2 separate regions of the Homo sapiens genome follow, and region 2 is linked to region 1. The links come from fine-mapping of genetic effects on gene expression. Tissue or cell type: pancreas. Region 1 holds a variant in brackets; the other region holds the start of a gene. All regions are shown on one strand. Distances are between the middles of the regions.

Evidence for each region. PIP is the estimated chance that this variant, and not a neighbour inherited with it, causes the effect.
Region 2: RPS7 starts here. The variant in region 1 is fine-mapped to the expression of RPS7 in pancreas (GTEx, PIP 0.95).

Annotation. Positions count from the first base shown.
Region 1 is chr2:3,604,362-3,612,463 of GRCh38, reverse strand. It overlaps COLEC11 (collectin subfamily member 11), which reads right to left. Exons shown (of 7, transcript NM_024027.5): 2 at 7,994-8,102. Among named protein-coding and RNA genes, the nearest start is that of COLEC11, 13 kb to the right of the region's middle. The variant G/A (reference allele first, on the strand shown) is at 4,311.
Region 2 is chr2:3,570,593-3,578,694 of GRCh38, reverse strand. It overlaps RPS7 (ribosomal protein S7), which reads right to left and starts at 3,435. Exons shown (of 7, transcript NM_001011.4): 1 at 3,345-3,435; 2 at 3,011-3,103; 3 at 2,807-2,878; 4 at 2,065-2,208; 5 at 921-985. The coding sequence starts at 3,085. LOC124907726 (a long non-coding RNA gene) reads left to right here and starts at 3,586. Exons shown (of 2, transcript XR_007086196.1): 1 at 3,586-4,560; 2 at 7,457-8,102. RefSeq lists a silencer at 2,889-3,178 and enhancers at 2,730-3,306, 3,307-3,882.

The DNA.
Region 1 (8,102 bases):
GCCTGGTCAGCCGGCTCCTGTCCAGGGTCCGCCTTCTCACCTGGTTCTCCGGGAGGCTCTTCCGGATTCTCTCAACAGGGCCACTCTGCTGGCTGGGACTCGGCTCTGTAGTCATTTTTATAAGGCCGTATTTCTTACCTGTTGCACTATCCCTCCTCTGAATGGTTGCAGACAGGGAGTGTGTGTGCATGTGTGTGCATGTGTGCATGCGTGTGCGTGGGTGCGTGGGTGCATGTGTGTGCGTGTGTCCGCATGTGCATAGGTGTGCACGTGTATGTGTGCGCGTGTGTGCGCTGATATGCTACAAGTTCACCTTCCCTCTCTGCACAATTGTGCCAGCGTTCACGTAAACTTTACTTCTCTATAACTCTCCATTTGCACCTTTGTGGGCAGCCAGCCATCCAGGTGCCGAGGCAAGAGACCGAGGGCACGAGCTGTTCCAGTATGATAAAATATACAAAACAACCCTATATATAGAGAGAGCATATAGAGTATAACTCTTGTTGTTTTATATATTTTATCATACTGGACCAGCTCGTGCCCTCGGTCTCTTGCCTCGGCACCTGGACGGCTTGCCGCCCACACACGTTGTGGCCCACACACCTTGTCTTGGAGAGAGGCTCAGTTGAGATTACAGATCCCTCCACAAAATCCCCAAAGCTGATTATCTGGCCTCACGGAGGGGACTTTCCATTTAAATCCAAGTAACAAAGAGAAAAGCACAGCGATGGTGGCAGGCCCATCCCCACATCACCCCCGTGCCACAGCCCCAGCCCCGCAGGGCCACCTACTGAAAAGCCTGTGGGCTGCCCCTGGGCTGACCCACGATCAACACCCACATGCTGCTCTGAGGCTCCAAGTAGTTCTCAAGTTTGCTTTCTTATCTTGTAAGAAGAAAAGAGAAGTATTGACAGTTTAGCAAGAAATATCCACTAACAAGATAAACTCAGCATTAAGAATCCCCAGAGGTTTCAGGGGCACCAGCATCGTGCAGAAGAAAGAACAGAGAAGACGGAACAGTGGAGCAGCCGGACGCTGACTGTGCAATCGGTGAATGGAGGTCCTCATAACATGGGAGAGGCCAGTCCGGGAACAACAGCACACTGCAGCGGAAAGAGCCGAGCAGAGACGCTGTGCGGGAGCCACTCCGCAGAAAGGCGAGTCCCCGGTGACCCAGGATGAAGAGGCCTCGTGGAGCCAGCGGTGAGGAGGAAGCATTGTTCACAGGGCAGCACTAATAAGAAATGCAGGCTTTGTTTGTTTGTTTTGAAGTTACGAAGTTGAGAGTTGAAGGAAAAACTCACAAATGCCAATGTCGCTCTGACAGCAATTCCGGAAAGAGAGGAACAAAGCCTTCGTGGCTGCGAAGATTTAGTAGCTGCGATTTCCCAGTGCTAAGGAAAGCCATGAAAGAACTCTGTGAAAGGGCCTGCGGAGAACCACACGGGGAAAATCAGAGAAAAGTAACTCAGACATGTCAGAGCAACATCACAGAACACCAAGAATAAAGAGAAAATGCTGTCAGCTACCCAGGAGGGAAAAACAGGTTTAAAGACTGCATACCTGTGAATGAGAATCAGATGGACATAAGAATTCTCATTAGCAACACCGGACGCAAGAATAAAATGAGGCAATAACCTCAACAAAGGAGCCATAATTTAGACGGCAAGATCCGAAAAGCCCCTCTGAGGGGTGGTTCTCAGGCTAAGCTGCTGAGCAGGGGTAGCCAGGCACAGAGTAAGAAGTGTTCTGAGGACAGGGTCAGCAGGTGCACAGACAAGGGGGAAGGGCTGGAGGGGATGACGGGAAGCCAGGTGGTTGGGCAGAGCGAGCCACGAGCCCGAGGCAGTAGGCAGCCCAGGGACTTCATGCCTGGAGCTCATGGGGATAACCTGACCACCCATGCCACGGTCCAGGCCAATAGTGATTGTGGCTGAGATGAGGGCGGAAGAATGTTTCCTTCATAAAGCATTTCACACCGCCTACATGACAGCAGTCTGCTCTTTCTCCCACTGGCTGAAAACTCTGAGAAGACACAGCTCCATCTCACCCAACCCTCGGTCCCCCAGAGCACCAGGAAGAAGGCGGGTGCTCCATCAGTACTCGTAAAGAATTAACACTAAGCAGGTCTGCCAGCTCTTCTCATACTGCTTAAGAAAGCTCCTGGAGTTTGTACACGGCATTCACTTATTTGCATAATAATTTCACCTCTCCCCCTACATGGGGCGGGCACTATGTCCACTCTAGAGGTGAAGACACAGCTACGAGAATCAAGTGACATGTCCAAGCTGGGATGTGCTGGCACGCCAGTGTGTCTTTACCACACCTTGCTCAGGCTTCAAAACCCCAGAGCGAGACTCACTAACCAGCATGACTACTCACCCTCGTCTCCTCTCCTCCTAAAGATAAAGCAGTAAGGACAAGTTTGTCATGATAGCTTCTGACCAACCTCCACCTGCATCCATCTGCCTGTCTCTAATCTGATTTTTAAAAACTGGTTGGCCAGGTGCAGTGGCTCATGCCTGTGATCCTGGCACTTTGGGAGGCCAAGGCAGGAGGATCATTTAAAGGCAGGAGTTTGAGACCAGCCTGGGCAACACAGCAAGACCCCATCTCTACAAAAAAATTAGCAGGGGTTGGGCATGGTGGCTCACACCTGTAATCCCAGCATTTTGGGAGCCCAAGGCGGGTGGATCACCTGAGGTCAAGAGTTTGAGACCAGCCTGGTCAACATGGTGAAACCCCGTCTCTACTAAAAATACAAAAATTAGCCAGGCGTGGTAGCGGGTGCCTATAATCTCAGCTACTCTGGAGGCTGAGGCAGGAGAATCGCTTGAACCCAGGAGGCAGAGGTTGCAGTGAGCCAAGATCACGCTATTGCACTGCAGCCTGGGCAACAAGAGCGAAACTCCATTTCAAAAAAAAAAATAGCAGGATGTGTTGCTGTGCACCTGTAGTCCCAGCCACTCAGGAAGCTGATGTGGGAGGAGCTCTTCAGCCCAGGAGTTGCAGGCTGCAGTTAGCTATAAGTGCACCACTGCACTCCAGCCTGAGTGACAGAGCAAGATCCTGTCTCTAAAAAAAAAAAAAAAAAAAAAAAAAAAAAAAAAATCAAAGAAAAATAGTTCATAGTAACAACTGGAGGCACGGAAAGAGACCCTGAAAAGCACCACACATTACACTGTGTCCCACAAACTCTCGTTACTAAAGCAGGAGAGAAAGAATCATAAGTCATTAAAAACAGCAAGACTTTCTAAAGAAGAGGATTTAACACACGTTTTCTTTATATCTCTCAGCTAATCACAAAATCCACTTACATGCCATCTCCCAAGGGCTCTGCTTAATGGACCTGTGTCTGTAGTTGTACAGGGCCAGGCGCATTTCAGCCAGTGCTGGGCAGCAGGCACCCCAAATGCCTCACGGCTGTGCCTGCAGTGTGGGGAACCCAAACCTGGAGTCAGAAACTGCTTTCCTTCCTGTGCAAAACCCAGCGTAAGCCCTCCCAGCCTGGTCCTCCTCAGCTCTGATGGGGATTGAACAAAATATGCCCTGGAAGACACCGTGCTGGTTGTCACGAGAAAAAGTATTTTAATCCCTGGTTCAGGACCAACAGCACTGAGGACCAGAGAGTACAGAGGCCTCCCATCCACGGCGGGGCTGCCCTGGTTTCTCCACGGTCCCCGTCGCCTCCGCCTTGTAGACTTGCCCTGTCCACGCATCTTAAGAACCAAGGCTGTTTTCAAGCACTGTTCACAATTTGGCAGGGTTGTTTTTTTGTTTTGTTTTGTTTTTGTTTTTTGTTTTCCAGAGATGGGGTCTTACTCTGTTGCCCTGGGTAGACTCAAACTCCTGGGCTCAAGTCATCCTCCCACCTCGGCTTCCCAAAGTGCCGGGATCACAGGCGTGACCCACTGCACCTGGCCAATTTGGCAAGGTTTGAAGTGTTCATTGTCCACTGGTCCCAGGGGTCATAAAGATGTATGTCCCTGCAGGTAATGACTCCAGAGCAGGATTTCTATACACGTCCCCACTCAACACTCCATGCATTTTGTAATGTAGACCCAGCGAGCACAATGACATTTTTCCCACATCCTTTTCATTTTCAGGATGATTGACTACATAAAGTTCTAATGACAAGTTATTTCTCTACCAGGAGAGGCTAACATTTCAACTGCTGGCTCACTTCCACCATCACCACAACGCAGCTCTCTCCTCGCTCAAAGAAACAAAACGTGGCTGACATTTACTGTTTGCTTGGCTTCCCTGCAAATCATGTACAAATCTACGAACAAAAAGCTTTTACCTAGATC[G/A]TATTTGGGGTCATTTCCAACCCAGCTAGGAAGGCGCATGTCAGTTATTTTATTGAGAACCTAAGATACTTCGACATATTTATAGCCAGTTGAGGAAGATCCGTGGACAGTGCTTGACTGTCACGCCACCTGCTTACAAGCTGAACAAACTCGTGTGCCAGCGACTTCACATCCCTGCTGGCCACAACAAGTGCCACGGCACCCCAGGGCCATGGGAAGTCAGAGAGGAGAAAGCCAGGACCTCAGCCTGCCTGGCTTGTTCTACACAAGGGGAGACGGCACAGACAGGCCGTCAGGTGTCAGAAGAGCAAACCTCCCACAGCGCATGTTATTCAGGCCCCATTACTGGTTTTATCAATGTTGTTTTAAAGAATGGCAGTAAATGATTTTAAAATTAATTTGATAGGCCAGGTATGTTGGCTCACACCTGTAATCCCAGCACTTTGGGAAGCCAAAGCGGGTGGATTACGTGAGGTCAGGAGTTCGAGACCAGCCTGGATAACATGGTGAAACCCCGTCTCTACTAAAAATACAAAAATTAGCCGGGCGTTGATGGTGCGCGCCTATAGTCCCAGCTACTTGGGAGGCTGAGGCAGGAGAATCACTTGAACCTGAGAGGCGGAGGCTGCAGTGAGCCAAGGTCGCACCATTGCACTCCAGCCTGGGCAACAAGAGAGAAACTCCATCTCAAAAAAAAAAAAAAAGCAAAAAAAAAATTCATTTGATAAAGCCTATAAGAAGAACTATGACCTTTCATATTTCTGGGAAACACATTTGTTAATACAGATAAATGTTTTCTCACCTACAGCCATTTTTTTAACCATTAAAAAAAGACTTTTTTCCCATTAAAAGGAGTTGTCATTCTCTCTAAATGTAAAGACAATATATTATTCCCTCTAAATGTAAAGATAATATATTATTATTATCTGAAATGGCCTGGAATGGCAAATAAATGTCATCTCAAGCACCACCAGCAGTCAGCGGCAGCCTGACTCGTGTGCTCAGGAAGATTCTCCAGCCAAATGTGGAGTTGGCAGAGGTTTCAGGATCCAAAACACAGGGGGTTGTGGGGGTTGGGGGGGCGGCGCGTGCTGTGTTTCTCAGACCAGATGCCACCCCGTGTCCGGGGCCGAACGGCGGGACTGTGAGGAGACAGGCCGCGGCTTCTTCATCCCAGCCCTGAGCCTGCCTGGTGGATTCTCAACGGACGCTTGTCTAATGAATGGTGACTGCGTGTGTGTCTGTTTCCTTAGAAGCTGGCACTGTGCCGCACGCTGCCTCTCCTCTTTGACCTCCAGCGACCCTGGGGGGCTACGGCACATGCTGGGGCCGGCAGGGATGAAGTCTGCTGGCACACACCATTTTCTCCATTGAGTAACCCAATTCCTGACATGCTGGGTATCCTGAATCCTTCTAAACCGCTCCTTGCCCCTGGTGCTCGCCTCTCGCTTGCGGACTCGCGGGGCACGTGCTGGACGGACACCTGATCTGCTCCCTGGTCGGGCTCGCTGCCTGCACAGGGTTAGTGCTTTGTAAGTCACTGTCCCAGAGCAAGGAGCAGGGGCTGGGTCCCCGGTCACTGTGTGCCCACTCCTGGTGCCACCACTGCATCCCCACAGAGCCCCAAGCTGGCATCGCCTCCCCAACCTCACGGACCAGGAGGCCGAGGCTTGGGAGGACAGGTGACCCGTCACGCAGGACGGCTGACCCACAGCACCCTCAGACCTGCCCTACTTCCCAGCCTGCAAAGGTTGAGAAGGGACCCTACCCATGTGGGAAATGACAGCACATCCAGGGGACCCAGGACGTGGACAGCTGGGAAGGACCCTCCCAACAGCACCTGGGAAAGGCGGCGCCCAGAAAGGACCCTGGAGCCCACCCCACGGCCCCCACCAGTGCAGGCTACTGACCTGGCAGGGCGCAGGGAAGACAACCGTAGGGACTCGGAGGCACCCACCACATTGGGCAGGGACGTGACCTCCACAGCCAAAAGTCCAGCTCTCCACAGCCACCGTTTCCAACCTAAAGCTGAAGGTTCCACTCACAAACCCACACACGCTACCACAAAGTCAGGGCCAAAGCCACTTTCACCAAAACTTCTGAGAGAGCCGTAGGCATCCAACAGTTTAAGTTGCTTCCAACATAATTAAACATTTTCTAAAGCAGGTACATTTATCACAATTAAAAGCACAAAGGCCACTGGGCTTGTCTGGGCTGCAGGACAGTCCACTTGGTTTCCAACAGCAGGGCTAACACAGCCGGAAAAAAGCCCCCAGCCAGAGCTGCACAGCCTGGCAGGGTGGCCCCGAGCTGTCCGGACCCTGTGCCCCGGGAGAGGGCTGACCTTTTCATTTTGTACAACACGGGCTGAGCAGGGTTTGTCTTTCGTGGTGACTGTTTTGATCATGGGTTTGAATCTACTTTTCTCTAATGTTTCAATAAAAAGAGCCGCAGACGCTCCACAGGAGAAGCTGAAGGCCCAAGCGGACCGCGGATGAGGAGGGGGCGGACCGGATTCAGGTTGCAAAAGGTCAATGTGCCCCTCCCCCTCCTCAGGACCCACGTGACTCCCCTCCCCTCCTCAGCACCCACGTGACTCCCCTCCCCCTCATCAACCACGTGACTCCCCTCCCCCGCCTCCTCAGCACCCACGTGGCCGCCCCTCCCCCTCCTCAGCACCCACGTGACTCCCCTCCCCTCCTCGGCACCCACGTGACTCCCCTCCCCTCCTCGGCACCCACGTGACTCCCCTCCCCCTCCTCGGCACCCACGTGACTCCCCCGCCCCCTCCTCGGCACCCACGTGACTCCCCCGCCCCCTCCTCGGCACCCACGTGACTCCCCCGCCCCCTCCTCGGCACCCACGTGACTCCCCTCAGCGGCGGCCTGGACTCTGCTGCGGCCGGTGCAGCCCCGGCCCTGCCACCCGACACTGGCACACACTCTGCTGTCCCTTCTTGGGTTCTGTAATTTTGAACAAGGGGCCCACATTTTCATTTCACACCGGGCTCCCCCAGGCTTGGGGACCTGTTGCCTCTGCTTTGTAGAAGCTGGTCATTTTCTTACTTGAAGATGCTGCTCTGGAGGCTTCAGATACCGCAGCCTCAGGGACTTTCTCACCCATGCCTCACCTGCAGAACTATCTCTATCCGGGAGCAGATTACAGACAAAGCAACAAGAAAAAAAAAAGTTCCTGTCTTTTTTTTTTCCCCTAACCACTAGACCACCAGGGATTTTTTAATTTTTAAAATAAAATATTAAGAGCTCTCAGGAAGCAATGTAGAAGCACACTTTGGGAACTTAACACAAGTTGCAAATTTTCTCTGACCCTCAAATTTCCTTATCTGTAAAATGGTCCACATGAGATCATCTCATGGGGAGGATCACACGAGGCCATGTGTGCAGGGTCTGACGGAAAGCCAGGTGCCTTCCAGCAAGGTCCCCCCGGAGAGGGCTGAGTTGCAAATAAATTGCCATCTTCAGAATTAGGAATTCCATGGCCGAAGACAGTTTAGACATCATGTCACCCAACCCTTGATTTCCAGATGGGGAAACTGAGACCCAATGGGGTAAGCAGATTTGCTGGGGCTTTGTGCTTTTCCGTGGAACTGCGCAGTTGCATGGGAGTCTCTCAGCTGGCCCGGAGGCCACTGCCCAGCAGCCCAGAGTCCAGGGAGCGGTTACCTTTGAGGCCAGGGACGAGGATCTGCACAGAGCAGGCGTCATCGCCAGCCGGCTGAGGATGTCCAGATGGCAGCAGTGACAGGAAGGCCAGGCTGATTAGAACGCCCAC
Region 2 (8,102 bases), 34 kb after region 1:
TTATGCCACTCTGCCTTTAAAAGTTTTTCAAAGTACTAAGCCATAGAATTCAAGTTCTAGAAAAGCTGGCACCTACCTTTCCACATACCACAGCTCGACACAATAACACATTACCAGACTCCCAACACTGTGTTCTAGTGGTTTTCAGAACAAGACCGAGTTAAAAAAAAAACATTCTTAGCACTACTAGTACTAGCTGCAATCAGCAAATTATCCCAGCCTTGGATCAGTTTCCTCATCCACTGAGAGTAACAATACAAATTAAACATGTTAGAGGGCACAGGCAACACTAGGATTTTTTTTTTCTTCAACTCATCCTTAGGGAAGAGTCCACAGGGATTTAATAGTTCACATTTGTAAAACAACATACTAATCAGAGACTAACAAAATACCAAAAGATCTAGTTCAAGAAGACAACTACCAATATTTGAGTTTATGCCAGATAACCTGTAAGTCAATCAAGTTCATAAATCATTTTCCATCAGCATCTTCAACTGCAGTGATATTTTAACCTGTGATGTTATCACCAAAATCCACCTACATTTTTTTACCTCCAATCCACAGCAAAAATAAAAATCAAAGATAAATCCAAGCCCATGTCAACTGTGTCTAGCATGCTATATCACAGAATTAAAGTAATGATTTCCTTCTCATCATTCCTATCCTGTGCACAAATAATCGGAGGAAATCATCTCATCTTGTGACAGCACTGACCTAGTAGGCAAACAATGGCTACATGAATACATGTATGTTTTACATCTAGAATTCTAAAACGTATCATGTGCAACTATACAGGAAACCAAATGCTGCTACTCAAAAATTCCCACTTGAACATCTGTTTTCATAAACTACAACTTAAACAAATTAAGAGTTGTTAATAAGAGGGGTACACACATTTCTGAAACTACTAAAATACTCACCTCCTGGGACGCTTTTGCTTATTTTTTGTACGGCTTTTTCGAGTTGGCTTAGGCAGAATTCTCCTCTGTAAGGTAAAAATTATCATGTAACAAAATGAAAAAAGACTTTAAATTGACAAAAAGCTGTAACTGCCATACTGCTTTAAAAGCAAGAAGAATGGCAGGGTAAGTTCAAAGTTCGAGAAGGCTAAACAACTTAGACGAACAATTGACTGAGCAAACCCTTCTATGGAGTTACTTCCTGATTCTTGAATAAATCATTCAGAATCCACAGCCTCTACTAATACGCCAGTGGACAAAATCTCCCAGATACGCCTTTCCCCATGCCTATGACCCAGAATACTACTTTTATTCCAGATCAATCCTGGCACTTCATTCCCCATAGACTTCAGTTTGCACCAATCCCCCATCCGAACTGTAACAGGTTTCTTCTTTTTTTGAGATGGAGTCTCGCTCTGTCGCCCAGGCTGAAGTTCAGTGGCGGGATCTCGGCTCACTGCAAGCTCCACCTCCCGGGTTCACGCGATTCTCCTGCCTCAGCCTCCCGAGTAGCTGGGACTACAGGCGCCCACCACCACGCCCAGCTAATTTTTTGTATTTTTTAGTACAGACGGGGTTTCACCGTGTCAGCCAGGATGGTCTCGATCTCCTGACCTCGTGATCCGCCTGCCTCAGCCTCCCAAAGTGCTGGGATTACAGGAGTGAGCCACAGGGCCCGGCCTGTAACAGGTTTCTTAGTTTGATCATCTATGTAAGCAACCCACTAGACTTGTGGAAATTTAAATATGGGAAATCATTTTCATAACTCAAAACACAGCAGTCTGTCACTTTACAGACTTCTTGTTTCGACTCTTAATTAAAGAACGTACTTTATCTTTCTTTTTAAAACTTATTTTTTCTATTTTTTGTAGACAGGGTCTTACCATGTTGCCCAGGCTGGTCTCTACAGTGATCCACCCGCCTCCACCTCCCCGTGCTGGGATTACAGGCCTAAGCCACGGCGCTCTGCCTGTACTTTATCTTTCTACCCAATTGGATTCATAAAAGGATTGTTTTCATGACTCCAACTACCAATGCAGTCTAAATACAAGCAATTTTAGCAAAATTCACAAACAGAAACGTGCTGCAACAGTAGAACAGATACCTGAGCGATAAAGACGACATGCTTCCCACTGAACTTTTTCTCCAATTCGCGTACTAGCCGGACTTGGATTTTCTGGAAAGATTTCAGTTGAGGAACGGGAACAAAGATTATGATAGCTTTCCGACCACCACCAACTTCAATTTCCTAAAGAAAAAAACAAAAATCCACTGTGTTAACTGCTTCAGAAAGTAAACGTTGTGGTCAAATTAGAGGATAAGAAGACCTTATCACTAACACCGTAGCTGCACTACAAACTAATACTAGTTTTGAGTTAATCATAAATGCATCCTTCGGAAATGTTCTCATCTCTCTCCAACCTTCACATTTCCTTATTCCAGGAAGGGAGACTGTTCAGGCCAGGAGGCCAATCACTACCACTTCTGCACCCCCACTTGCGGCAACTCCGGGCTAAGGGTAGAGAGAATCTCATCCTGAGCTCCCCACAGCTCTTTGCCGTATCTATAACTAAGTAAGGGCAAATAAGGTCCGAAATGGGCCCAGGCCCTCCCTACTCCACGTTTCTCCACCGCCCGCATGTGGACAGCTTAAGCCGCAGGGTACCTGCAACCCCACTCCCCGCACCTGGGCGGTATCACTCCCAAACAACACGGCCGAACCTGAGTTCAGGTTAGGCGGCCAGGCGGCAAGTCATCATCAACCGTAACCCAGGTCCAACCCTCTCAGGCACTGCGCGGGGAGACGCGCCGCAACCTCCCTCCCAGCCGAGGGAGCGCCAGCTTACCTTAGCTGCCGTAATATTCAGCTCCCTGAGCTGAGCCTTGAGGTCCGAGTTCATCTCCAGCTCCAGAAGAGCCTAAGAAGCAACGAACAGCAGGACCGACCCTGAGCGCGCGTCCGAGCACCCCGGGCCCAACACACGCGCGGCCGCCTCCCCTCCCGGGCGGGGCGCCTCCCCCCACCCCAGACCCCAGGGAAACCCTCTCACCTGGGAGATGCCGGACTCGAACTCGTCCGGCTTCTCGCCATTGGGCTTCACGATCTTGGCGCTCGAACTGAACATGGCTTTCTCCTGGGAGAACTGAAGGCACAGCGGTCAGCGTTACGCGGCCCGGGCTGCAGGCGCCGCTGGCTCGCCCTCCCGCCCGCACCCCCCGGCCAGGCCCCGCTCGCCCCGCAGAAGCCATCGGAAAGCACAGGGCGGGTAATCGGCTGTATCCCCACCCTGTGAGCAAGGCTCGCCCCTCCAGGGCCTGACTCCAAAAGGCGTTTTCCTCAACCCAAGAAGAAAAGTTCTGTCGGAGAGCAGGCCGCCAACCTACCTTGCCGAGCGCCGGCTTAGGAAGAGACCCAAATCTCGCGAGAGCACGTCAAAATCCGGCGTCCGAAGGCAAGAGGCGGAAACAGCGCGAGGAGGAGGGCGGAAACCGGAACATCACTGAGAAGCGGTAGGAGGCTAGAGAGTCCCAGGAAGCGGCTCTGGGGACGAGTGTCTTGGTAACGCTTTTCCGCCCTAGGATTCGTACTTTGGTGCCGTTTCCGAGCGTTCCGGTACCGGCTCCCAAGGTTCCCGTCTTCAGTGCAGGTTGCAGGCGGGAACCGGCCTCGTCCCAGCCCTGGGCCTGGGAGAGAGAAGGAGGCCGAAGAAAACCAACTTCGGCAACCTCCGGAGACAGGACGTTTAAAAAAGGCTAACTTGGCTGGGCGCTGAGGCTCACGCCTGTAATCCCAGCACTTTGGGAGGCCGAGGCAGGAGGATCACTTGAGCTCAGGAACCAGCCTGGGCAACATGGCGAGACCCCATGTCTACAAAAAAAAAAAAAAAAAAATTAGCCAGTCATGGTGGTGCGCGCCTGCAGTCCCAGCTACCCCGGAGGCCGACGCGGGAGGATCGCTGGAGCCGAAAGGTCGAGGCTGCCGTGAGCCGAGGTTGCACCACTGCACTCCAGCCTGGGCGACAGCGCAAGACCCTGTCTAAAAATAAATTTAAAAAAAATTGCGAGGCCTTCATTCTATGCTAGTACTGTACTAGGTGCTAATTATTAAGTAAAACCGACTGAACTCTTGCCCTCATGGAGCTTACAGTTCAGTGGAGAAGACATTACCTAAAGCAGTATGACTAAATATATAATGACATATTGTAATAACTTACATAACAGTACAATGAGAGGGTGGGGAGGGATTATTTATGCTTTAAGAAGTCGGGAATCCTGGAACGGAATGACATTAGACTGAGACACGGAAGAGCCGCAGGATCTATTGCTGGGGAAGAGCATTCCAGACAGGGAGGAACTCGTGCCGAATGATCCCGCTGTGGACAGGGAATTTAATCTGAGCTTCGGTTTCCTCTTCTGTCAAATGTCATGCAAGAGTTACTTTCAGCCGTGGTCCAGGCACTGTGAAAAATGCAGAAGCCACACTAGGTGCCCTCTCTCAGGATTCCCAACCACCTTTACCAAGCAGAGATGGTATTCATCCCACATTTTTAATGCTAGATATGCTCCCGCCCGGTGCTTCTCTAATAATGTTTTTTAAAAGGTAAGTGACTGTCTCCTTGGAAAATTAAGGATAACTTGAAGTTTCTTCCAGATAGAAAGTAAACTACAGCTGCGTCTACAATCTCATCTGGGCAGTCGTTCTGAGCCCTTTTGTCGAACTAGGTCCATTTCCTTACTCCACATGCACTTTTCGACCTGGCTTTTATCTCTGCTGCTCTATAAAAGTAGTAATCTAAAAGTTCATCCAGTAAAGCTTTTTCTCTGTGAACCTATCACTTGAGAACAAAAAAAATTAAAGTTATTTCTGGTTTCCAGTCCTTTGTTGAATAGGAGTGGTGAGCAAGGACATCCGTGCCTTGTTCTCCATCTTAGGGGAAAACCATTCAGTCTTTCACCATTAAGTATAATATTAGCTCTAGGATTTTGCAGGTATTTTTAATCAAATTCAGGAAGTTCCCTCTGTTTCTATTTCTGAGAGGTTTTTTTAAAATCATGGGCCGGGCACGGTGGCTCACGCCTGTAATCCCAGCACTTTGGGAGGCCGAGGCGGGTGGATCACGAGGTCAGGAGATCGAGACCATCCTGGCTAACACGGTGAAACCCCGTCTCTACTAAAAATACAAAAAATTAGCTGGGCGAGGTGGCGGGCGCCTGTAGTCCCAGCTACTCGGGAGGCTGAGGCAGGAGAATGGCGTGAACCGCCGGGGGCGGAGCCTGCAGTGAGCCGAGATCGAGCCATTGCACTCCAGCCTGGGTGACAGCGAGACTCCATCTCAAAAAAAATATATAAATAAAAAATAAAATAAAATCATGAATGGATGTTGGAGTATGTCAAATGCATTGTTTCTATGAACTAATATGATTATGTGAGTTTTTCTTTTTAGCTGTTAATGTGCTGTTAATATACATAAATGCTTTTCCTTTCTAACTCTTTAGCTTTGAGCCTCATGAGATCCTAAGAAATGTGATTTTTAAAACCTAGAACCTGATAGAAGTTGATAGAGGTTGCACATGTATTTTTAATAGGTAGTTTCAGGATCATAATCACAACTTAGAGGGTCATTCTACTAATTTTATGTTAGGAAATGCCTACTAATCATTACATTAGATTGTTTTCCTGGTTTTACTAGTACTAGCTTCTTTATTATTTAACCATACAATAAGTGAGTCGATAATACCAACATGATTGACAATGAACAGAAATATCATCTATGCAATCCACTTACTTTTAGAACACTTTGTTAACTCTTTTATGTATCATTATGGACATGGGACATTTCAGATTTGCTGTACATCAATCAGTCTCAGCCAATATTCTCCTTTGATCCTCAAATTGTCTCAGTTGTGACCAGGAGGGGCCCCTCTTAGATAAGCAGCCGAGTCTTGTCATTTCTATGAATGTCTGAACATCTTGTTTTCTGGCACAAGATATTCCAGGCTCCTCTTGTAATTTTCTGCCTGAGACATAGAATGAGCCTTTTCTCCTAGAAGTGCTGATACTTTTGTTTTTGTTTTTCTGGAAAAATAGTACTGGAGACCAGAATTTTGGCAGCAGGAGGCATCGTGGGGCTCCTCATAAGCCGTTTCAGCGGACAGAACTTAGAAAGATGGCATTTAAAATAATTTTTTCATAAAAGATACAAGTTCACATTGACATTCTCAATCCACTTCTAACAGAACAATTCCTTCTGAAATCCTCGATTCTATCATAGCATCTCCTTTTCTCCTGTAATAAAAACCTTGCTTCCTAAACACAAAAATACAATTACTTGCTTTATCTGACACTATGAGAAAATACATTCAAAATAACAATGCAGGTGGGCCGCAGTGGCTCACACCTGTAATCCCAGCACTTTGGGATAATCCACCCAGGGTGAGTGGATCACTTGAGGTCAGGAGATAAGCCTGGCCAACACAGGGAAACCCTGTCTCTACTAAAAATACAAAAATTAGCCAGGTGTGGTGCCACCCGCCTGTAATCCCAGCTACTCGGGAAGCTGAGGCAGGAGAATCGCTTGAACCTGGGTGACATGAACTCCTGACCTCATGTGATCTGCCCACCCTGGCATCCCGAAGTGCTGGGATTACAGGTGTGAGCCACCATGCTCAGCCCTTGTTGACTTTTGAATATGTGAAACACTCTGCTTCTGAAAGTCAAAGCCATCTAAGGAGGTCACTCCCTTGAGAAGGCCACACTCCACCGGCCCCTGCCTTCCCTCCTGCACCCAACCTTGCTTTCTGGTTCATGCTTCCTGGGTTTCTTTTTGCTTGAATGTATATTTTCTTACCTCTCCTTCATTCTTACACAAAAGCAGGATTTGATTTTTGCATTTTGTGTTCGCCTAAACATATTTCCTGGAAATCCCTCCATGTCAGTTCAGGAGACCTCCCTCATGCTTTTTCACCACGGCGTCGCTCTCCGCTGGGCTGTCAGACCACTTTCACCCAGCCCGTGTTCTGTGGAGACACTTGGACTGCATCCGAGTCATACTCAACATTTTGAAATTTTAAACAATGCCCCACAAATAAACTTAGGCATATGCGTTAGGATGCTTTTGGAGCAGCCCCTTTGGGATAAATTTCTAGAAGTGGGATCTCAGCCTCAAAAGGTAAAGGCATAAGTAATTTTGTTACGCATTGCCACCTTCCCTTAGAAAAGCGCTGTGCGTCATATGGGAATTCTTGTTTTCCCACAGCATTCCCAACAGAATGTGTCATCATACTTTTTAATTTGTTTCTATCTGACAGGTGAAAAATGAGACCGCAATGTAATTTAATTTGCATTCTCTAATTCAGAGTGAAGTTGGCATCCTTCCATGGGTTTCATACGTTCAAGGACCATTTTAAAGCGTTTTATACGTTTTTGTGTGATTGTTTTCTGCTCATATTTTAACCATTTTTCTTTTTTCTTTTCTTTTTCTTTTTTTTTTTTTTAGGTTGAGAGCAGAATTTTAATAGGCAAAAGAAAGAGAAGAGCTCTCTGCTGCAGACAGGAGTCCTGGAGAAATGGGTTGCCCTCTTTTTTCTTTTTCTTTTTTTGAGACAGTCTCTCACTGTCACCCAGGCTGGAATTCAGTGGCGCATTCGTACCTCGCTGCAGCCTCAACCTCCTAGGCTCAATCGATCCTCCCACCTCAGCCTCCCGAGTAGCTGGGACTATAGATATTTAACCATTTTTCTATTGAGATTTGGTCTTCTCCACCACCCACCACAGATTTTTGTAATTAGAGGTCATTTTTCCAAACAAATGATTCTTAAGGTCCTGCTGTCTCTGAATATTATTTTTATAGAACAAGCATAAGTATAATTGGATCAATCATCTAACCTTTCAGATCCTCAACTTAGTCTTCCATTAATGAGAGGATTAAATCCATTAGTTAAATGTTCTCTAAGAATCAGTGTGTCTCCAACTTCAGTGTACAAACAGCGGGTCACCCAGGGATCGCAGTGGGACGCAGACGCTGATTCCGCAGTTGTGGACTTGGTGGAGGTGGGCGCTGTCTCAGTCCATCTGGGCCGCTATACAGAGTGCCACAGACAGAGTGGCTTACGGACAACAGATGCTCATTTCTCACTCTCTGG